Homo sapiens: one gene and its partners. The protein of the gene in region 3 purifies or fractionates together with the protein of the main gene of each other region. This does not show direct contact. Each region holds a gene or a part of one and is shown on either strand. Other genes may lie near its edges.

Region 1 (3,500 bases), on a different chromosome or scaffold from region 3:
TGGCTAGGGGTCCTCCTGACACCTGATGGGATGAAATGCCGTCACCTGTCACCCGGAGCTGACACTCTACTGCAGGAAACACAACCCTCGCAGTGGCTAAGCTGACGGCAGCAACGTGGGTCCTGACTCTGGCCTGGCATACCGGCTGCCTTCCGGGCCCATGGCTTTTGCAGGGGACCTGCTGCCGGGGAAGGATCCTAACTTCATGGTGGTGACAGGCTGACATAAACCAACCCAATAAGGAGCGCCAGCCCCTGAGTGAGCCCCACTCCCTCCGGCAGCAACTGAGAAACTCGGAAGCTGGGGGAGAGCCTTTGGCTTCAGGAGGGTTCACATTGAGGCTGAACTCCCCTGTGCAGCTTGGCCTTGGGAGGGGAGTGGCCCAGGGCCTGAAAGGATGTCTTTACTAAGGCACCGTCCTGCCCACATCAGCTGTTCAGGTAACATCTGTCCCATCCATCCCTCATTCCCACACGGACACCACACGCCTGCGTGATGGCCACTTACAATGCAGTCAGGAGAGGTGTGACGTGCCCCCATCCTCGGCTCACCACAGCACTGCCAGCTGAGCCCCACGGGCCACAGCAGCGGGAAGCAGCCAGGGAGGGCCGGCCGGGTGCTCTCAGGTCTCAGCAAGCCACGTGGCTCTGAGGCCAGGACACTGGGGAAGCCAGGCTCCCACGCAGGCAGAGCTACTGCTGAGGCCATAGGACAGCAGAGGCCTCGTCCCCAGTGGCTGGGAGGAAAGAGGGTCAGGGCCTTTGCACTGCAGGTCCCAGCCCAGGCTTGGGGGTGCTCCCTGGGGAATGGCTGTGGGGATGGGCACTAGGAGCCAGGCCGAGCTGCTTCCATTTGCAGTCTCGCCCCTCTGGGGAGGGAAAGGACAGGCAGAAGCTCTGTGCTGTTATTTTGGCGGCCCCTAAAGAGCCAGTCCTCCCAAAGAACCGGAACTGGGCTCGCACTTAGTTAACCCACGGAACGCAGGAAAGTGGCAGGAAGCATGTTCCAGGTTGATGCCTGAAGAAGGGCTGGCAGCTGCTGCTTTTGTACTGAGGAGCCCTGAGCCCTGTGAAAGAAGGGGAGGGAGAGGCCCCGAGACGACACACGGAGAAGCCCACCCACCCCGGCAGCCCAGCCCTGAGCCCACGCCAGCTGAGCACAGCCACGCGAGCGACCAGCAGCAAGAGCTGCAGCACTGTCCACTGTTCACTGTCCACTGTCTGGCGGAGCCAGCCCAGAGCGCAGAGCCGCTGCTGCTTTAAGCCTCGTGGTTTCGGAGTCAAGCAGCCACAATGACCAGCACTACCTCCCCCATCTCTTTCCCTCTTCGTGTACTGCGTTACCCTCCCAGTCTTCCTACAGAGGAGCAAAGAGCCTTCAAGACCCAACGGCACGCAGCCACAGAGAGACAGGGCTGGAGCCCGTGCCTTCTGTTTTTTTTCCTTTCCTCCCCCTTCTTTCTCTCCTTTTTTCTTGAGACGAAGTTTCACTCTTATTGCCCAGACTGGAGTGCAACAGCACCATCTTGGCTCACCGAAACCTCCGCCTCCCAGGTTCAAGCAATTCTCCTGCCTCAGCTTCCCGAGTAGCTGGGATTACAGGCATGCGCCACCACGCCCGGCTAATTTTGTATTTTTAGTAGAGACGGGGTTTCTCCATGTTGGTCAGGCTGGTCTTCAACTCCCAACCTCAGGTGATCCGCCCGCCTCAGCCTCCCAAAGTGCTGGGATAATAGGCATGAGCCACCGCACCCGGCCTCTCTCTCCTTTCTTTAAGACAGGGTCTAGCTCTGTTGCCCAGGCTGGAGTGCAGTGGTGTGATCATGGCTCACTGCAGCCTCAACCTCCCAGGTTTAAGCGTTCACCCCACCTCAGCCTCCTGAGTAGCTGGGACTACAGGTGCACACCACCACACCCAGCTAATTTTTGTATTTTTTATAGAGACAGGTTTTCACCATGTTGCCCAGGCTGGTCTCAAACTCCTGGGCTCAAGTGATCCGCCCGCCTCAGCCTCCTGAAGGGCTGGGATGCCAGGCATGAACCACTGTGCCCAGCCTGCCTTCTGTTTCTGAGCTCAGTTTTCTGGTTTTCTACACTCCCCATCTCCCCACAGCACCAGGAAGGACATCAAATGCATTTGCCTTTGTGTGCGAAATTCCAATGTGCGTAGCTACATTGCTGGGCATAGTTCTGGTAGCCATTCCTCAGAAAGGTACCCAAAAGGACATCTGAGTGCAACAAGGGATTCCAATAGCTCTTGCATGACCCTCCAAGAAACAGGTCTCCTGATAGAGAGCCACTGGACGCCTAAAATTTACGAACAGAATGGCCCAGGGGAAAGGGAACTTGGCCACCTCTTTTGGGATTTAGAAAACAAGACACACTCTTTGACTTGAATGACATTGTTTTGGGCACCATAAAGAGGAATGCTTTACCAGGCAGGTGCTACAGAGAGCTGGACGCACACTTTTTTTTTTTTTTGAGACGCAGTCTCACTTTCTCACCCAGGCTGGAGTGCAGTGGTGCAATCTCGGTTCACTGCAACCTCTGCCTCCCGGGTTCAAGCGATTCTCCTGCCTCGGCCTCCCGAGTAGCTGGGACTACAGGCATGCACCACCACACCCAGCTAATTTTTGTATTTTTAGTAGAAACGGGGTTTCACCATGTTGGCCAGGATGGTCTCGATCTCTTGACCTCGTGATTCGCCCGCCTTGGCCTCCTAAAGTGCTGGGATAACAAGCGTGGGCCTGGCCCACAACACTTTTAAGAACTTGAATACTGAAAGACATCTATGAATTTGAAGAGAAATATTGCAACTGACTGGACACTTACATGATGTAAGGCACAATGTTAAGATACATGCCTAGTACATCAACACTCTGGAAAACCAAAAGTATCTGTCAGGTGGGAAGGTGGGAGTAGACCATGCTGTATCCAACATCACACCTTAGTCCTAGAGGGATGCCTACAGCCCTGAGGACCAAGGAAAATGCCAGTGAACTCGCCTCTTCCAGGAAATGCCAATGAAACCACCTTTGCAAAAACTGTAACAGTGAGAAAATTATGGTGGTGAAAGAGATCTGATCTAACCAATCCCCATCTTTGGCCTTCCAACTACCTTTTTTTTTTTTTAAATGGAGTTTTGCTCTTGTTGCCCAGGCTGGAGTGCAATGGTATCATCTTGGCTCATTGCAACCTCCGCCTCCCGGGTTTAAGCGATTCTCCTGCCTTGGCTTCCTGAGTAGCTAGGATTACAGGCATGTGCCACCATGCCCAGCTAGAGATGGGTTTCTCCATGTTGGTCAGGCTGGTTTAGAACTCCCGACCTCAGGTGATCCGCCTGCCTCAGCCTCCCAAACTGCTGGGATTACAGGCAGGAGCCACCGCGCCTGGCCCTTCAAACTACCTTTAATTATTCCTGGGCTTGGGCCAAGCTAACTTTGGGAGACATTTGTAATTTAAATGATAATACTCCTTCCGTAAAACTCAACTGCCTTTGTA
Region 2 (3,500 bases), on a different chromosome or scaffold from region 3:
ACTACTTTGAATTCCAACAACCATCACTGGGCCTCCACTATATGCAAAGCATGTGGCTTTCATGGATGTTATGCATTCCCAAAGGGAAAAAAAGATGTGCAGAGTCATTGCAGCTCACAGCTGAGCTATGGGCTGTGAGACACACAAAAGAGTAGTGAAACAGACTTGAGCATCAACCGGCAGGATGGAGACTCACCAGGAGGGATTACATCACAATCACACAGGGAACCACTGTCACTTTAATCATTTATCACCTGACTAGTTCCTCTCTGTGATGTGGAAATTGTATCCTCAACTGCCAGTTTACCTAATGATTAGAAAAGTATAGGGAAAATAGAAAGGAGGGAAGGGCAGGATCCAATCACCAAAGCAAAATTGGGACAAGCTAATGTATTTCTGCCAAGATTGGTAGAAACAAGCACAGATCTATTTCCTTTGAGCTGCTTTTTATGAAATGGTACTGGGCTGGCATTTCCTTCTCACAAGATTTGCTGTAGAAATCGTAACTGTTAGAGTGGGAAGGAAATTTGAGATCATCTTGTCTAAAGCTCCCATTTGACAGATGGAGAAACGGAGGAGCAGACTGGTTAAATGACTTGAAGTGGTGGCAAAGCTGGACTACAGCTGAAGTCATCAGGTTCCTAGTCAGTCCAGTGCTCCAGCCACTCTACAATGCTGCTACTAAGACAGGCGTTCATAAAAATCACTTGTTCCCATTTGACTTGAGGACTTACACTCATTGTTGCGTTAATCTCTGCCACCGTTTCTTCATCAGTGGGAAACTGATATATCTGGACCCCATTGCTGACCAGTTCACTCATGATCTTACTCTTGAATTTGTGCAGTTCATTCTTGGCAATGGTGTCAGCTTTTGCAATTATTGGAATGATGTTCACCTGTAAAACAGACACGTCCATTTTTACACAATTCCAACATAAGAAAAATAGACAAGTGAATAAAACATAGCAAACAAATAAAAATTGCAAAACCTTACTGTAAAAAATAAAGATGTTTCCTACTTATATCAAAACATCTCATGTACCCCATAAATATATACGCCTCCTATGTACCTACAATTTTTTTTTTTTTTGGGGTAGAGATGATAATGAAAATCAGACTTTCTACCTAGGTGAAAAATTAAGAAGACCTGAGATAAACTTTTAGTTCCATATTCAAACACTTTTACTTCCTCCCATCCTGCACTGAAAGTATACTTGTAATTTCCTCTCCTATGCTACCTCATTTTTCTTTACAGAGTAAAGGAAGTGTTACTCTTCTATGACAAATAGTGATAACAAAGGAACTTATTCTTTGAATGACCAACCACTCCTTTTAGACCCCTCCCATCTACTTTAGGCTCTTGAGTTCGCACCTCCTAACAGTATAACAGCAAAGTTTTTGTAAGAGCAGTGGAGTATTCAGTTCTATGCAGCCCAACATCCTTTCTTTCTTCTGATGACCTGAAAATTGCTGAGAGGAGAACCTATGTATTAGCCAAAACAAAAATGGTGTTGCCCACTGTAAAATTTTTCAAAATCACACCAACTAATTCTTTTGAAAATCAGTAATTCCATCAAATTACTCCTTCATGCCAGAATAAAATCGAGCGCCAAAGGCAAGGCTCACTTTCACAGCATCAGTTACAAAGAACAGGGGAGAACTCAGAATTTGACATTAGTGGCAGGAAGCCCAGAAAGGGAGCCAAGGATACCCCAGAGCACAACTTCCAAACCCCATGTGGACATTCTTTCCCCGGCTGCCCCCAGCCCTGTGCACAGGACACATTTCTTAAATTCGCATTTTAAGATTAACTTTCCCCTAATCCCTGTAAACACAGGTTTCAATAAGACGTTACTGACATCCGATATATAGAACTATGATCTTCACCCAGTTCAGGTGAGAGAAAACAGACTCGGTAAGGAAGCTGTCCTAGCCAGGGAACAGAGAGTCTTTCGGGAGGTGTTCAGGTCCCATCTGCATGCCTTTGCTTCTCCTTTTATCCAAAGGCCAAATTAGAAATCCTGATAAACCCGAATGAGATGACATGCTGAGAGAAAGACCTATTCTTCAACCTATTCCTCAACCTGCTCCTAAGCTCACCATGCTTGGGCTTCCTCCAGCAAGTTGCAGACTAAGAAAAACATCATTGATGGTGGGGGAAATGTTTGGATCAGGACCAGAGGAACAAGAAACTTCCTATTGTTCTTATTGGCTATCTTTGATACACATTTAGTATTTAATTAATGTCAACATAGACAAAATGGCAGAGATTCACTCTTTCTTGGCCAAATTGATCAGAGGAGATAGAGAAATCAAGCAATTTAGTTTTAAAACCTCTTTTTCCTCACTAGCCGGACTTGAAAGTCTTTTCTGAAATGACCATACATTTGCTTAACCCTTCCCTTTACTTGTATAAATAAAACTTTGATATTATCATTTTCAGATGCTAGCTAGCTCTCCAACTCTCCAACAATATCACTTCTTTGAAAGTTTAACCTGCTTTATGGTTGACTGTTTGCTTTTATTAGTTGTGCCTGTTTTGCCTTTTTCTTTTCCGTTTTCAATGAACTCTATTAAACATAATAATAGTGTTGGATATTATCCGGCTGGGTCTGCATACTCAGCCCTCGATTAGGAAGCCTCCTCACTCTACTTCCTTCAGAATGTCTGTGGAGAATGGGGCACTCTTGAGAACAGGGAGGTCTGCCCCTGCTTCCAAGGACACAACAGACCCGGAAGCGGCCCTCACTGCCCGTGATCTCTCCACTATCATGGCTAATGGCACAGCTCCCAGGGAGCTGAGGAATCAGATGGGATGAAGGAGGGTTTCTATTTATTCTGCGAAGAGTACTCTAGCTGCAGTGATCCTTCCAGGCCATTAGAAGATTTTTCTGTAAACTACTGTGTCTGTGCCTGCTGGAAGCCAAAGGAGCCTGGCTTGGCTTCAGCCTCTCCAGCCCTTTAAAGGACAGTTGAGACAGAGGCCTTGGGGACAGGCTGATCTTCTGAGCATTCTCTCACTGTTTTGTCCCTCTGGAGAGACAGCATCTTTATCAGTGTTGTTTAGATAAAATCATAGTAACAACACCCAGCAGAGTCCTCTAAAGAGCTTTATCATCTGATAAGACTTTTCTGTGAATGCAAAAGGGGTTTTGAATCTAACGGTAAATACCATCCACAGCTTAGTTTTGTGGTTGTTCTTGTTGCCATTTGTTTCATCCTTATTTCAGAATGTATTGTCTTCTATTTATTTCAAAATGGAAAGTCTAATTAATATATAGTAAGGTGCAAAATTTTATCAAACTTACCAGTCTCTTCCTTCATGTGTTGTGAAAAAGAGAAGGTATAAATGTGGCAAGCTCAGGGATCACACTGAAATTAAGACTTTGCTTTACTTGAACACACATGTGCAGTTCAGTTTTAAAATTGAAGAAGCTGGACCATTATCATCACAGAGACAAAAATTTAACCTTTTATTCCATTGTAAACTTTGAATTAAA
Region 3 (2,582 bases):
CAGCAGAACTCTGCCTGTGGGCCCATGGAGGGACTGGAACGCCCTGCTCCCCACCCCACTCTGGTGACAGGTTGTCTGGAGGACGGGCTGGGGAGGACAGGTGAGTGGGAAGGTGAGGTTCTGGGCCCATGGAAGCCATGGGGGAGGATGGGGACTCACATGGGGGCAAGGAGACGGGTGGGTATGGGAACTCACCCAGCTCTCGGTGCCGGCTGTGGAGAGTGGGCCGGGCACGTGGTGCCGGCCAATCGTCAGGCGCCACCCCCAGCACCAGCCAGGCCCGCAGCAGCGCCGCGCCATAGCTGCGCACGAAGGCCTCGAGGCAGGCAGGGTTGCAGGTGAGGCGTGACAGAATGCGCAGTGCACGTGGGCTGGGCGGGCCCGGTGCGCCGGTCACATAGGTCAGCAGGCCGTACAGCGCCGGGCCGGTCACAAGTGCCCCACTTGGGTCAGGGGCCTGGGAAAAGCGCGACAGCAGCAGCAGGGCTGGCCCTTCGCGTCCCCAAGGCTCCTCGATGGCGGCGGCGGGGCTGCGGCCCGGAGTGCGTTGGGTGCGTGGTGCCCGCAGCGAGGTCGGGGTCGGGGCGGGGCTGGCCGGCTCCATGGGCTCCGGCGGACACTGCTCAGGAGACCAGTCGGGGGAGATGTCATCAGGGCCTGTGGCATAGCCCTCGGAGATCAGCCACGACCTGCGGAGGGCAGAAAGGGAAGGAGACTGAACCCAGAGCCAAGGTTAAGGGGCAGAGTCCAAGAGGCGTGAGGCGTCTTTTTTTTTTTTTTTTTTTTTTTTAAAGAAATGTGGTATCCCTCTATAGCCCAGGCTGGAATGCAGTTGTGGGATCCTAGCTCACTGCAGCCTTGAACTCCTGAGCTCAAGTGATCCTCCCACCTCAGCCTCCCAAGTAGCTGGCACTACAGCTGTGTGCACCACACTCAGCTAATTTTTTAAATGTTTTGTAGAGATGGGTCTCGCTATGTTGCCCAGGCTGGTCTCGGACTCCTGTGCTCAAGCGATCCTCCTGCCTTGGCCTCCCAAGGTGCTAGGATTACAGGCGTGAGCCACTGCATGAGCTAAAAGCTGTCTTGGAGGGAGGTAAAGCCAGGGGAGAGAAGGAGGGCGGAGAAAGGGGAGAAACGGAAGTGAGAGGGGGATACGACTAAAACCTCATTCAGTAATTACTGATGCCTGTCACGTGCCAAGCCGTTCTTTAGGTGCTGGGTAGAAGCACTGAACAAAGTGCCTGTCCCCCTGGAGTTTATGTTCCAGTGAGAAGAAGCAGACAAGAAGTAAGAGTACCATGAGTTATGTTAGTGTGGGGCTAGTGTAGAGTACAGGGGTCATGGAGAAAATAAAAAGGAAATAGGAAGCGCTGGGGGCTGGGCATGGTGGCTCACATCTGTAATCCCTACACTTTGGGAGGCTGAGCCAGGAGGGTCACTGGAAGCCAAGAGTTCAAGACCAGCCTGGGCAACAAAGCGAGATCCCCAACGCTAATGTTTAAAAAAAAATAAAGAGTTCCTCAGCTTTCCTGTGATGCTTCAGCTCATGAGTGATGGTAAGAGAGTAAGAACTTGGACTCCAGAGCCCACCATCTTAACCAGCGTATATCCCACCTCCCAGTGAACTTGTCTGGGGCCCAAAGTTCAAAGGTGCTGGCGTGGAACCAAGGTTAAAAGGTAGATCCAGCCAGTGCAGTGGCTCATGCCTGTAATCCCAGGACTTTAGGAGGCTGAGGCGGGTGGATCACCTGAGGTCAGGAGTTCGAGACCAGGCTGGCCAACATGGTGAAACCTTGTCTCTATTAAAAATACAAAAATTAGCTGGGAGTGGTGGCCGGCACCTGTAATCCCAGCTACTCGGGAGGCTGAGGCAGGAGAACTGCTTGAACCAAGGAGGTAGAGGTTGCAGTGAGTGGAGATGGCACCACTGCATTCCAGCCTAGGTGACAGAGTGAGACTCTGTCTCGAAAAAAAAAAAGGTAGACTCAGGGGAGTGGAGTGTGTTAAATAGGAACTGGCAGGTGGTCGTGTGGGAATCAGGAGTCTGGGTTATAAAAGTCTTATTCAGACAGAATAGGGGTGGAGGTAGTGAAGAGGACCAAGACAGACACAAACCCCACATCACTGCACTGCTCACCCTCCCAAGCCCTGAGGCAGGGACTCACCTGAGGCTCCGGAAGCTTCCACCCTGTGCCCGCTCAGGGGTCCTCTCCTCAGGAAAGTCCCAGGAAGCAGCTTCTCTTCCCTCTTCTTCCTCCTCACCAGCCTCACCACACAGCTGCCCAGCCAGGAGAGGCACAAGTCCCAGAGCCTGCAGCCGGCCCAGGGCCCCAGTGTCATACAGAAACCCCACAAGGGCAGCCACAATACGAGGGTGCCATGCGCTTGCACGAGGGTCCCGCAGCAGGCCCATCAGTAGATCCAAGCCACCAGCATCCCGCAGTCGGGCCCGGTTGATGGCCTCACGACATAGGAGGCACACAGCCCGCACCAGGGGCTGCTGGGAGGTTGGGCTAGCTCCATTAGGATCCCGGCGCTGCCGGAGCTCATCTACCAGCACCTCCACGCCACCAGCATTGCCC
Region 4 (3,500 bases), on a different chromosome or scaffold from region 3:
GCCACAGCGGCTGCCTGGTGCGTGAGCTCTATGGGAACCCAGCCCTGTTGGAAGGTCACTGTTCCGAGGAGACACCTAGGGAACGTCACCTACGTCCTTGCTGGATTCAACAAGGGGCGTGGACCCCACAGACCTGTAGCAACGCACCGGGATCAGCACGGAGGCCCTCACAGTCGGCACTCAAAACAGAGCAGCATCCACAGGCAGGACACCTGGGACTCCACCACCCCGGGTATGCCATGTGGACACCCACACAGCCTCTGGTTGCTTCAGTCCTGATCTCCAACACGGGGTGACGAGACTGCTCCCCTTTTAGAAGTGTGTGTGTGTGTGTGTGTGTGTGCGCGCGTGCAAGTGAGCATGTGTGTGAGCCAGCATGGGTGCCCATGCCCATATGTGTAAGACACCATCACTGCTGTTCCCAGGAACATACCGGTTGGCCCAGGACACCTGAGCCTGCACTTTCCCCACTCTGCTCTCATTCAGACCCTCCCACCCCCAACTCAATACACACATCTTTCAAAACCGCCATTCTACTCCACCCATGGTAAAGAAGCCAGCCCATGTTGCAGAAACTGTGCCTGCCAAAGTAAACGTGGAGAGTGGCACTATGGCCTCCTGAGGGCCTCATGGCCCTGAGGAAGGGGGTGGACATCAGAGCAGAGGCGTGGGGAGAGCTTTTCTTATTTCCGCCTGTGCCTCTTGATTTCCAACAGGTGCTCACACGGCCTATTCCAAGAGAACTTTAGAGAGGTCTGGGGCAGCAGCACCTGCCAGGCCTTCAGTGCCCTCTGCTCCACAGGCCACCAGACACAGCCTTGTGGTACAGGTGCCCGCTCCCCTGGTGGGATGGATGGCTTTGCTGTGTTCCTGACACCTGACACTGTTTGGGGACAGGGCGGTTGAGAAGAGGTTTCGGCTACAGCAGCACGGCTGCCTTGTAAAACCTAAGCAGAGGATGTGGAGACCTGGGAACCCTCTTTCCTCCTCCTATCAGAGGGTTTTGGGAGAGACGAGTAGACACGGTGGGGACAGGAAGAGGGGCGGTGCCAGGCCCAGGTGGCCGTGCAGGAAGGGCCTTCACTCACCACGCAGTGTCACTGAGCACAGTCACCACCTCGTCCAGCACATCCGCGCCCACGACGTCACTGTAGGTGAGCAATGTCTCGTACACCTGGCTGGCCGTGGTCTTCCGGATCTGGGACAGGGATGCAGTGCATTTGCCGGAGGGAAGCGCCACCGCCCCACCCCGGAGAGACGACAGGACCCAGGCCAGGGAGCCCCGTCAGTGGAAGGCGTCAGGAGGAGGACGCTGACCCTGCATCCCATCCCAGCCACAGCAGGGCTGCAACCAAGAGGAGGTGCCTTCCAGGCCCATTAACCACCTCCTCCCTCCACAGACACACAGCTAGCTGCAGGATCCCAGCAGTGAAGATGACATCATTCTTGTTTAAATGCTTTATTAACCAACCTGCTCCCTCACCAGAGAAGCAATCTCGCCTGCTCTCTATTAACTAACCTGCTCCCTCACCAGAGAAGCAATCTCGCCTGCTATTAACCAACCTGCTCCCTCACCAGAGAAGCAATCTCGCCTGCTCTCTTTTCATCAGAGAAGCACTCTCACCTGCTCTCTATTAACCAACCTGCTACCTCACCAGAGAAGCAATCTCGCCCGCTATCTATTAACCAACCTGCTCCCTCACCAGAGAAGCAATCTCACCTGCTCTCTTTTCACCAGGGAAGCAATCTCGCCTGCTCTCTTTTCATCAGGGAAGCAATCTCGCCTGCTCTCTTTTCATCAGGGAAGCAATCTCGCCTGCTCTCTTTTTGAGTGGTGCCCTGGTCATCATGTCTCACTGCGCTGGTGGTCTGAGCCCCGGGCCCACCCTGGAGGTGCTGAGTCGGCAGCACAGGGCCCAAGAGCTGCACTGCTGAAGCCCCAGAGGTGCCAAGCCTGAGGGTCCGGCACCCCACTTCGAGAACCACCATACAACATGAAGTTACTTTTGCCTTTTAGGAAAATGTCACCTTTGTATCATCTGAGGTTTTTTTTGCAGCCAGGAGAAAAGAAATCCTAGAAATCTAATAGCCGGGGAGTGCTGGGGATGAAGGGCACTGCCCCTAGGTGTGGCTGAACCACTTCAGCCTGGGTCCTTCTGGAAGCTCCTGAGCCAGATCCCACCGCCAGGTCACCCCTCAATGTATGTCCATAGAAACGCCAGCCGGACAGCCCGTCCTTAAAGCCAGAACAGTGGCGTCCAGAGCCCCTTGGCAGCCGCGTGCCTGTGACGCGTCGTCACCCAGGCGCGTTAACGAGAGGGGCTCGGCTGGAAAGCACACCAACACAACAGTGCCAGCGAAGGCCTTCTTGTCACTGAGGGGCTTGTGTCCACACGGCAAACACACGTGAGCAGGGGCAGGCACTCACCAGCGGGAAACGGTGGCAGAGGAGCAGACACAGCTGCAGGAGGGCCTGCCTCCTCACGTCGCCGGGGAACTGCACCATCTCGCAGAACCTGCCGGGAGCAGCACATGGCTCCAGGTGAGCCCCACCCCGCGCAGGCCAACCCCAGCAAACCCCGGACCCAAAGGCCCATGCAGAGACCTGGGCAGAGCAGATCCGTGAGCACAGTGCGGGCCTGGGGCCCCAAGCCGGAGGTGTGTGTGTGCGTACATCTGCACTGTGCCTACACACACGAGTGTCGCACTTGGAAAGTCACTGTGGGAAGTGAGGACGCCTCACAGAGGATCTCCTGCAGGGCCGCTCGCCCTGCCATGAGGACCCCCACCTCAAGGAGCCACAGAGCAGCCAAGGTGCCTATCGCTGGCTGGCGCACCTGCCCAGTGTCCACCTGAGCGCCGCAGAGCAAGGCACTCAACAGCGACCCCCAGGGCACACAGGAGAATCGGGGAGGCAGCCCCTGACCACGCAGCTCCTTTCCGGAGCCTCCCCTCCCGCCAGGGCAGAGCGCGAGGGCAGCAGAGGCAGAGCTCGCCTGTTCCCGCGGGAACTCCCTCCACCAGCACCTGGGCTGCCTCACCTCCCATTGCGACTGCTTTGAACATTGGAATGCACGATCTTAGGTTAGCTTGAGGAGTAACACTAACTGCTCCTCTCCCGCCTGGAGCCGTGGACTCCTGCCCTCAGCCAAGGGAGGCTGCGCCCTGCCATTCCGTCTAAGGCCAGCAGCACTTGAAACTCACACTGCGATGCCTGACAGGAGCTTCTGGATATCTTTTGAATTCTTGATTTCTTTCTTACAGAGCGCAAGCAACTTCACAGCAAAGGGGTGGCTGGAAGAACAACACACACTTTAGAGATGAGCTTTCACAGGCAGCCCCGGGATGCACACTTTTTCTGTCTCAAAGAAGGTCAACTCCGTCCTCCCAGTGGCTCAGTCCAAGAAGCCTGCAGCCCTGAGGCCCCTCTGCCAGCAAGTCCGCTGGTCCCCATCCCAATACCTCCACAGGCCGGCCTGGTCCCTAGCGGCTGTGCCACC
Region 5 (3,500 bases), on a different chromosome or scaffold from region 3:
GCTGCAGTGGTGAATTAAACACATTGGTCCTTACCCTCAGGGAGCTCATGGGCTAGTCAGGAGAGCAGAAAAACACACGAATAAGTAAACTACTAATTCCAAAATGTGGGGATGTACAATGGAGGGAAAAAGGAGAGTGTTCTGACAGGGACTCACAGAAAAACCTGCTTTGTCCTGGGTGGTCAGAGACCATCTCTCTGAGAGAGATGTAATGAAGGACTGAGCCTGGGTGGGCTCCAGTGTAAAATACACCAGGCAGCAAACAAGAGCATATGCAAAGGGCCTGAGGCAGAGCAGAGTGGGCTTATTTAAGTTGCTAGTGGGAGGCCAGGGTGATGGGAGCTGTCAAAGATAAGCACAGCCAGATATTAGTTTAGGCAGTGACAATAGGTTTCATTCAGTAACTGCTGACAGTGGGGGAAAGAGCTAGGCTCCATTCTGATTTGTGCAGTGGTGATGTGAGCATTTTAAAGGGAGAATGAGGGAGGGGAGAACGCAGGGCTCTGTAGAGTCAGAGAAGTAAAAAGGTAGAAAGGGCTGGTCAGTGTAAATGTGAGGAGGCCAGCTGTGTCTGATAGCTGGCAGTTCTCTCGATTAGGACTCTATTCTCCCGCAGAGACTGCGAGACAGACACTCTATCCATCCTGATGATTGTGTTGCAAAGGAATGGCTCTCAGTCCTTGAGAGAGATGCTTGTGAGTTTCAAGAGATACATATTCACAGTTTTAAGTCCTTTTTAGTAAATTCTCTTGGAAAGGGAGGTCAGGGGCCTATCATCAGTTGTGTGTTGAGTAGAAGAAACAGGTACATTTTCCTGGCAGCACTGAGTTTTCTCAGGCAAGCACTTTAAGGGGAACCGGGCCATCCTAGGGACACAGATTTGTTCTGCTAGGAGCCATGCCAGAGTCTGGTCAGGTCTCTTAGTGCAGAGGTTTGGACAGATGTGTCAAGTGTGGGAAATTCTACAGTTCTCAGCACAAAGCAAGCAGTAGGTTAGCCGAAGGGAAAAGGTGGAAGAAACATCCAGATGCAGCCTGGCTTCCCTCAATCCCCGCGCTGGGGTTTTCCGTGTCTTTCTGCTGGCTTCCCCTTGGCTTCCCTCCAGCCTTCTCTCTGTAGCTTTCCCTCTTCTGGGTTTGGTTATTTTGACTTGTGAGAGCTTGCTTGATTATAATCCTGTCCCTCCCAGCTGGCGCAGGTTCCCCTGGGAACCCTGCAGCTCTAGGGCTGGACGCTGTGTTTTAGGCCTTAGCTCTTTGGCTCCCTGAGCCCCCGAGGCACCAGTGATTTCTTGGTGTCTTGGCAAAGAAAGACCAGGTTCCTGACCACTCTCCCAACCCCACTGCAATGGGCAAAGCTCTCGTTTGTTTGCTTCATTTTTTAAAAAATATATATATATTTTATTATACTTTAAGTTCTAGGGTACAAGTGCACAACATGCAGGTTTGTTACATATGTACACATGTGCCATGTTGGTGTGCTGCACCCTGTTTGCTTCATTTTTATTCAACAATGTGAGGACTGGGGAAGGGAAGGTGTTTGCAGATTAAACAAAACCACGAAGTGTGTTTCATATATAAGGTCTAGTTGTTGTGGAACAGAAAGGCCCATGATGTCTGTTAATTTTGTTTTGTATTGTGGTATATTAAAAATATGTTTTACAACCCAAATATCCATTGATGAGTGAATAGATAAATAAAATGTGGTAAACACAAATGATGAAATATTTTTAGCCTTAAAAATAAATGAAACTCTGATATATGCTACACTGAGATGAACCTTGAAAACATAAGTGAAGCAAGCTAGATACAAAAGGACAAATATTGTAAGATTCCACTTTTTTTTTTTTTTTTTTTTTGAGACGGAGTTTCGCTCTGTCGCCCAGGCTGGAGTGCAGTGGCGCGATCTCGACTCACTGCAAGCTCCGCCTCCCGGGTTCACGCCATTCTCCTGCCTCAGCCTCCCGTGTAGCTGGGACTACAGGCGCGCGCCACCATGCCCGGCTAATTTTTGTATTTTTAGTAGAGACGGGGTTTCACCGTGTTAGCCAGTATGGTCTCGATCTCCTGACCTCGTGATCCGCCCGTCTCGGCCTCCCAAAGTTCCACTTTTATGAAGTATCTAGAATAGTCAAATTTATAGAAACAGAAAGTAGCATAATGACTACCAGGGGCTGGAGTGGGGGAGAAATAGGAGGTAATTGTTTAATGTGTAAAGAGTTTCAGTTTCTGGAGATGGATAGATGTGATGGCTATAAAACAACGTGAATGCATGTACTTAATGCCACTAAAATGTACACTTGAAAATGGTTAAAATTGGCTGGGTGCGGTGGCTCACGCCTGTAATCCCAGCACTTTGGGAGGCCGAGGCGGGTGGATCACCTGAGGTCAGGAGTTTGAGACCAGCCTGGCCAACATGGTGAAACCCCATCTCTACTAAAAAAAATACAAAAATTAGCCGGGTGTGATGGCAGGCGCCTTAATCCCAGCTACTTGGGAGGCAGAGGCAGGAGAATCGTTTGAACCCTGGAGGCAGAGGTTACAGTGAGCCGAGATTGAGCCATTGCACTCAAGCCTGAGGGACAAGAGCGAGACTGCTGATATAGTTTGTCTTACAACATATTTTATTTCATTTAGAAATACTATTGTCTTATTACTTGATTGTAACACAACAAAGTTCATGGAACTATAGCTTTTGCTTTGTAATTTTTTTTTTTTTTTTTGAGAGTCTTGCTCTGTCACCTAGGCTAGAGTGCAGTGGTACAATCTCGGCTCACTGCAACCTCTGCATCCCAGGTTCAAGCGATTCTCCTGCCTCAGCTTCCCAAGTGGCTGGTATTACAGGCATGTGCCACCAAGCCCAGCTAATTTTTGTTTGTTTGTTTTGGTAGAGACAGTGTTTCACCATATTGGCTAGGCTGGTCTCGAACTCCTAACCTCAGGTGATCCACTTGCCTAGGCTTCCCAAAGTGCTGGAAGTACAAGGTATGAGCCACTATACCTGGCCTGCTTTGTAATTTGATCAATAAGAAATCTTCATAGAGAACTGGCAAGGGCTTCTGGAAAAATCATTTTGATTAAAGACATTTAAAACAAAAAAGGAGTAAAACTATGTGTTTAAGTGTCTAAATAAAAGATGGTTGGGCTCACTTTAAGGATTTACATAAAAAGAAAATAAATTATAGATCTAGTAAGAAGGCAGCTATAATATTTCAAGGGACCTGTTGATGTAAAGATGAGGGCTTACAGAAGCACAAAGTCAAAAAGGAACATAACCTGAAGTAACAGTGTAATGATAAGAAATAAACCCGGAATGTCTGCACTGAAATCCCAGCTCCATGACTTACTGGCTATGTGGCCCAGGGAAGTGACTTAACCTTTCTGTGCCTCATATTTCTCACTTGTAAAATGGAGCTGAGAGAGAAAGAGAGATGAGCTGCCCATGTGTTGGAGTAGACAATTATACCAGAGATGAGCAAAAATGGAAATAATAATCAAGCT
Region 6 (2,886 bases), on a different chromosome or scaffold from region 3:
GATGCATGTGTCTATGTGTGTATGTATTTGCATATTTGCATGTATGCAGGTGGGATTATTCCTTGGGCGGTGATGGGAAACAGGAGCAGCACATGTTTCCTGATCTGTTACATATACCTCAACATTTGTCTTGAGACCAGTTCTGCAAGGGAGGGATTATCATTACCATCATTGTACGTATGCAGAAACTGAGGTTTAGAGAGGTGAAGTCATTTGGTCAGGGTTACACAGGTAGCAAGTAGAAGAGTTATGTTTAGAACTTGGCTCCAAAGCCTTAGTTCTTTTTATTCTGCTAACTAGAGCTTCATAGAAATTAATTTCCGTAAAGAAATGACATAGAATGGTAGCTTCAGGCAACCAGGTACCATGCTGGGGAGTTGACTTGTACATCTCATTTCATTTTCATAACTACCCTGCAGCTGTCATCCCATCCCCGTTTTACAGTTGAGGGACCTGGGGCTCCGAGAAGGGAGATCTGAGCATGGCCCACAGCTGGTATGGGCCTGGAGCCCAGTCCTCTTGAATTTCTGGCCAAAGCTCACCTATCCTTGGTCCTTGGAGGACATGCAAACACTCACACAGCCACACGCATGTGCACACAGAAACACACACAAAGGGTCAGGAATTCAGCATGTGTGAAGCATGCTGCTATTGGCTGTTCTTCCTCTGTAGTCTTTCTGGTCATTTTCTGTGGTGGACCTTTCTGGGCTTGGCCAGGCTGAGGCCAAGACACTTGCAGTGGGGTGTGCTCAGAGCAGGGGGCCCAAAGAATGGCTCCTCTGTTTACAACACACCCAACAGGAATCTGGGGTCATTGTGATGAGGGCGTCAAACTTGTGGCTTCCCTATGAACAAACGTCCCCCAACACCTCTATGTGGCTTCTGGGCAAGACCAGTGGGACAGGGCTCAATATTGGAAGAAAGACTGTAGTAATTAGTGGATGATGTTGCCATCTGGAGCCTGTCCAGTCTATGCATGGGTAGGCCATGAATGGTCTTAGAAATAAAGGCTTTGAACCTCTCTTTCCAAGGTACCTGGACTATGCCAGAGTCCCCAATAGCAATCCCCCTGAATATGAGTTCTTCTGGGGCCTGCGCTCTTACTATGAGACCAGCAAGATGAAAGTCCTCAAGTTTGCCTGCAAGGTAATTGGAGAGCTCCTTGAGCTTGGCAAGTCAAGAGCATGGGGTGCCCCTGGCTGGGGCAGGCTGTGTGCAGAGCAGCCTGCAGTTCAAATCTGAATGTTTTGGTGCTTCTGTTAATTGTCAAAACACTGTAACAGGCACTTTATCTGAATCATTTAAGCCTTACAACCTGATATGTCATTGCCCTGTTACAGATGAGAAAACCGAGGCCCAGAAAGGTTGGTAGGTGACATGTCCAAAGTCATGGGGCTAGGAAGTGTCAGAGCAGGGATGGAATATTAGGTGCATAATTACTGGTAATACTGTATTATTACTATTATCTTTTTATACTAAGCATGTAGCATAGTGCCTAGCATAAAGGTAGATGCTTAATCCTCTTATGCTCCTTCTGATGGTTATTTACATAGTAATACTGTATTATTACTATGGCTTAATCCCTCTATGCTCCTTCTGATGGTTATTTTTGTTTCAGGTACAAAAGAAGGATCCCAAGGAATGGGCAGCTCAGTACCGAGAGGCGATGGAAGCGGATTTGAAGGCTGCAGCTGAGGCTGCAGCTGAAGCCAAGGCTAGGGCCGAGATTAGAGCTCGAATGGGCATTGGGCTCGGCTCGGAGAATGCTGCCGGGCCCTGCAACTGGGACGAAGCTGATATCGGACCCTGGGCCAAAGCCCGGATCCAGGCGGGAGCAGAAGCTAAAGCCAAAGCCCAAGAGAGTGGCAGTGCCAGCACTGGTGCCAGTACCAGTACCAATAACAGTGCCAGTGCCAGTGCCAGCACCAGTGGTGGCTTCAGTGCTGGTGCCAGCCTGACCGCCACTCTCACATTTGGGCTCTTCGCTGGCCTTGGTGGAGCTGGTGCCAGCACCAGTGGCAGCTCTGGTGCCTGTGGTTTCTCCTACAAGTGAGATTTTAGGTATCTGCCTTGGTTTCAGTGGGGACATCTGGGGCTTATGGGGCTGGGATGAGGAGCTGGATGATTCTAGGAAGGCCCAAGTTGGAGAATGATGTGGAGAGTGTGCCAAGACACTGCTTTTGGCATTTTATTCCTTTCTGTTTGCTGGATGTCAATTGACCCTTTTATTTTCTCTTACTTGTGTTTTCAGATATTGTTAATCCTGCCAGTCTTTCTCTTCAAGCCAGGGTGCATCCTCAGAAACCTACTCAACACAGCACTCTAGGCAGCCACTATCAATCAATTGAAGTTGACACTCTGCATTAAATCTATTTGCCATTTCTGAGTTTATTGCTTTTTTTGGCGGGCTGTCACATTTTGGTATCACATTTAAAAATCAGTGAGTTGGGAAAGTTTCCACCTCAGTCTGTGTTTAGTTTGAGGTGATATTGTTGGATTCCCAGGAGCGAGATTAACACACCTTTCTGGGATAGATTGGGCCTCACGTCTAATTGTTGGATTCCCAGGAGCGAGATTAACACACCTTTCTGGGATAGATTGGGCATCACGTCTAGCCTTCAGGGTGGTGGGATTTTAGTGGGGTGGAGTTCAAGAGATTGTAGTTACAGAGGACACACTTTGAAGGAGAGGCTTGAGGTCGGCAAGTCTAGAGCAGAAAGTGTAAGTAGAGGAGACTGGACATCAAATATAGAATCCCTTTTTGAGAAATTTGAATGAGGAGAGAGAGGGGTACAGAGCTAAATGGAGATACAGGAACAAGGGAGCATTTTCTTGGGGAAGGAGAGAGAGACTTGAGTAGGGAGGAGTCAACGGAGAGGGAGAAGT
Region 7 (3,500 bases), on a different chromosome or scaffold from region 3:
GGTGTAAGCCACTGCGCCTGGCCTCTCCTCCCCATTTTATAGATTGAGGAGTTGGCTTGTCCGATGGCAGAGCTGGGGCTACAACCTAGCATACTTGCTCCCAGGCTAGTCCTCTTGGTTAATAAGCAGCATTCCTTATCATTTGTGCCTTACTATTTGGAAAGCAGGGTCCCACTATTGAGAACTGATGGAGCCCGGACTGACCCCCAGTTTTGTGCTGCTTTTACTGTGTTGTGGCCTCCCAGTGCCTTTTCTTAGTGTATCTGGTTGATTTTGTCTAACGCCATTCTGGTTCATCCACAAAGTTAAATCCCCAGACATTTCTTGTGGGTGGCTCAGAACTTTACTGAATGTAGGTTAAACCGCAGATTTGTGTCAGGCTCTGTGAGACTTGTAGGATCATTCAGCCACAGGAGAATATTTTCTGTGCCGTTATCCACAGACATTCATCAGGAGCCCTGTGTGAGCCCAACCTATTGCTGGGAACCAGGGAAGCTCTCTTCAGGATGGCTGAGCACCATCCCAGCCCTAGAGAACCAGGAGACTTTTCTGAGAGATGTGGTCCACATGCCGAAGCTGGGGAGTGATCCAAAATGGTCTGGGGTTGAATGCAGAAATGAGTAGATGTGAATGAGCTTCAGCATCAGGGATTAATGCTGTGGGAGAAATGAAGGTAGCCTACATCTGTGGTTTGCTCTTGGTTAGGCACTGATTCCTGGAGTCTGCCTGAGACTAGGACTTACCCGTGGTCCACAGCACGGTATCCCATCCTGACTTTCTGTTAATGGTATGACTTAAAGAGGTTATTGCACCTATGGGATGGCTTAACCGGAGTGATTCTGGCCTCTTTTGGTAGGGTAACTAAAGCCCGTAGAGTTAGCTGCAGGACCACAGTACCCTGTTGAATTCATCCTCTCCCCCTCCCTTGCCAGACTGAAGAAGCTTTGTAAGAACTAAGGCAGAGAGGTTCTTTGGGAAGAGAAATTGGAGAATTTAGGGTCATGGTATCTCAGATCCTAACCCTGTTCTCCAGTATGGCCTTCTTGGCTGGCTCAGCAGGCTTCTGTTGAACTCAGCAAGCTGCCTGTGCCCAGCCCTTCATCACTGTAGTGAGGATCCTGCTCACATCTCTCAAGGGAAAAGGGACCAGAAAAGTGATAGCTGGGGAGCTTGCGAGTGTCTTGACCATCTGAATTTGTCTTGACAATAGAAATGAAGACAGAGATGAAGCAAGGAGCACCCACCAGCTTCCTCCCGCCTGAAGCTTCTCAACTCAAGCCAGACAGGCAGCAATTCCAGAGTCGAAAGAGGCCTTATGAAGAAAACCGGGGACGGGGGTACTTTGAGCACCGAGAGGATAGGAGGTGGGTGTATGAGGCAGCAGTCACCCTTGCTCTGGTAGGTTTCTATATCCATAGCCTCGTGCTTGCTGGGGACATTTGCACTAACCTAGAGGGGCTGAGTAAAGATTCCCTCTGCTTTCACACTCTTCCTGTCCCTTCCCGTACTTGCTACCAGATTCAGCTTTCCTAAACTTTTGGTCCTTCCCCCAGTTCCTCCCTTCTTACCTGCAGGGTAACTTCTAAATATCTTAGACTTTCACGCGTGAGATGCCAGCCTGCCTGTTCTGTCCTTTGCCTTACTGCCCCTGCAGTCAGCTGCTTGATACCCGTAATGAAAGAAATATCTGTTTCCTAACACTACTCCCAAATACACATCCTCTTCCCATTCATCCACTCATTCAGTCAGTTCTCACAGTGCTGTCACGAAGTGCCCACTCTTGGGCTGGACACTAGCAACATACAGATGGACAGTGGGTTTTGCCTTCTGTTGTTCCAGTGTGGGGACTCAGACACATACACTAGTAAGCCACAACCTCTGAGGTGAGTAGTCAGGATGCAGGTGAGTTTCAGGAGTTCAGAAGAGGGAGCAGCCTCTGCTTTGGTCATTTCCCTTCCCTAACAAGCCCTTCCCTCCTTTCCCTCCAGACCAAGTCCTTCCCTTCCCTCCTTCCTTCCTTCAGTTCCTGTCTGAAGCCTTTTGCAATTATGAAAACTAGGAATGGCCACTGTACTCATCTGGACTAGTCATCTGACATTCTATTTCCTATCTGGCGGAGTCCACCTTCTAACTAGCTTGTTACTGTCTGAGACAGGGCCTGGATCTCACAGGCTATGATTTAAGTTAGGACATGGATCCCACCTCATATGGGGTTCTTCCACTGCCTCCCACAGAGCAGAAGCCTGGAAGCTACTTACTGATGGAGAGCAAAGGAAGAACACTCGCTCTGATCCTGGGCTGGCAGGGAAAGTTTCCTAGAATGGACTTAACATGTGATGAGCACAGCTCATCCATGTTAGCCCTGGCCTGGCGAGGCCAGAGGGGCCCTCCACCAGAGGGAAGCCTGCTGCTGGGAGAGTCAGCAGCCAAATGGGCATGGGCTCCCCATCTGTGCATGCAGTGCACTGCGACCACCCAGACTGTCCAGGCAGGACCCTGAGTGTTAGATTCTACCTTTCTACCCTTCTTCCTCGTTCCTGTACAGCAGAAACCAACAGTGTTAAGTCCCTTTTTTAGCGTTTTGGTAGGAAAATGAATATCGTTTATAATTTAGGACACTGAAAAAAATGGGTCATCTCAAATTCTTACAGATGTAGGATTTTAAGAAGCCTGGTACATGGATAGATAGTAATTATTGGGATTTATATAGGCTCTTGCACATTCCCCTTCCTGGCCAGCACCCTTTTGGGATACCACAGCCTCCAAACAGTAACAGAGATCAGTGTGGAAGTGGTTGTCAACATGCAGAGGGTATGGATCAGAATCTTTGGGTGTAAAAAAAGAGTGAAAAAATTCCCTAAATGATTCTGATGCCCCCCTTCAGCAGAGCATGCCTTCTTCAATCCCTGTCTCCACCGTAGGAGTTGACGGTCATTGCTCTCCTTGCAAGGATGTAGGGTTTCAGAGTTCTTTTGCCCACCTCTGTGGAAGGAAATGGAGATTCAGGAAGCAGTCTGGAGGCCACTCATAGATTACAGCAGAACATTCATTTTCTTTCCTTTGTGCTCATCCATTGTTCTTGTATGACTTAACCCCTGTTTCTAATACAGGGGCCGCTCTCCTCAGCCTCCTGCTGAAGAGGATGAAGATGACTTTGATGATACCCTTGTTGCTATTGACACCTGTAAGTCTTTGGAGTGTGCATCTAATTCTGCCTTACAGTCAGTATGGGGAAATTGTGGTCTTGACCTTCACCAGAATCCCTGCTGGGCACCGTCCAAAGACATTGTTAGTCCACATGTGAGACACGGCTTAGCTCTGGAGCAAGAGTACTGGTTTGGAGGCAAAAGACCTACTCCCAACTCTAGCAGTGGGACCCTGGGCAAGTCATTCTACTTCTCTGAGCTTCCCTTCAGGAAGGAGTAAATCTGCTGTACTAACCTCAGAGGATTTTCAGGGAGACTCCTCAGTGGATATAGGAGCAATCTGGAAAACCCTGA

Evidence for each region.
Region 1: the proteins of ARMC5 (region 3) and LRRC47 purify together in Homo sapiens (affinity purification with mass spectrometry, with the first as the bait; one study listed by BioGRID). This does not show direct contact.
Region 2: the proteins of ARMC5 (region 3) and SEPTIN11 purify together in Homo sapiens (affinity purification with mass spectrometry, with the first as the bait; one study listed by BioGRID). This does not show direct contact.
Region 4: the proteins of ARMC5 (region 3) and TBCD purify together in Homo sapiens (affinity purification with mass spectrometry; one large-scale study listed by BioGRID and IntAct). This does not show direct contact.
Region 5: the proteins of ARMC5 (region 3) and TF purify together in Homo sapiens (affinity purification with mass spectrometry, with the first as the bait; one study listed by BioGRID). This does not show direct contact.
Region 6: the proteins of ARMC5 (region 3) and MAGED2 purify together in Homo sapiens (affinity purification with mass spectrometry, with the first as the bait; one study listed by BioGRID). This does not show direct contact.
Region 7: the proteins of ARMC5 (region 3) and HNRNPUL1 purify together in Homo sapiens (affinity purification with mass spectrometry, with the first as the bait; one study listed by BioGRID). This does not show direct contact.

The regions. Positions count from the first base shown.
Region 1 is NC_000001.11:3,789,999-3,793,498, forward strand, and holds part of LRRC47 (leucine-rich repeat-containing protein 47), read right to left. Parts: intron 1-3,500.
Region 2 is NC_000004.12:77,012,252-77,015,751, reverse strand, and holds part of SEPTIN11 (septin-11), read right to left. Parts: intron 1,031-3,500; exon of another isoform or gene 897-1,030; coding exon 735-896; exon of another isoform or gene 1-734. UniProt on the Homo sapiens protein: Filament-forming cytoskeletal GTPase. May play a role in cytokinesis. May play a role in the cytoarchitecture of neurons, including dendritic arborization and dendritic spines, and in GABAergic synaptic connectivity.
Region 3 is NC_000016.10:31,462,501-31,465,082, reverse strand, and holds part of ARMC5 (armadillo repeat-containing protein 5), read right to left. Parts: coding exon 2,166-2,582; intron 690-2,165; coding exon 196-689; coding exon of another isoform or gene 1-195.
Region 4 is NC_000017.11:82,937,065-82,940,564, reverse strand, and holds part of TBCD (tubulin-specific chaperone D), read right to left. Parts: intron 3,295-3,500; coding exon 3,205-3,294; intron 2,517-3,204; coding exon 2,429-2,516; intron 1,199-2,428; coding exon 1,089-1,198; intron 1-1,088.
Region 5 is NC_000003.12:133,749,393-133,752,892, forward strand, and holds part of TF (serotransferrin isoform 1 precursor), read left to right. Parts: intron 1-3,500. UniProt on the Homo sapiens protein: Transferrins are iron binding transport proteins which can bind two Fe(3+) ions in association with the binding of an anion, usually bicarbonate.
Region 6 is NC_000023.11:54,813,630-54,816,515, forward strand, and holds the end of MAGED2 (melanoma-associated antigen D2), read left to right. Parts: intron 1-740; exon of another isoform or gene 741-871; intron 872-1,031; coding exon 1,032-1,146; intron 1,147-1,618; coding exon 1,619-2,053; 3' UTR 2,054-2,061; intron 2,062-2,251; 3' UTR 2,252-2,386; downstream 2,387-2,886. UniProt on the Homo sapiens protein: Regulates the expression, localization to the plasma membrane and function of the sodium chloride cotransporters SLC12A1 and SLC12A3, two key components of salt reabsorption in the distal renal tubule.
Region 7 is NC_000019.10:41,270,872-41,274,371, forward strand, and holds part of HNRNPUL1 (heterogeneous nuclear ribonucleoprotein U-like protein 1), read left to right. Parts: intron 1-1,210; coding exon 1,211-1,364; intron 1,365-3,110; coding exon 3,111-3,184; intron 3,185-3,500.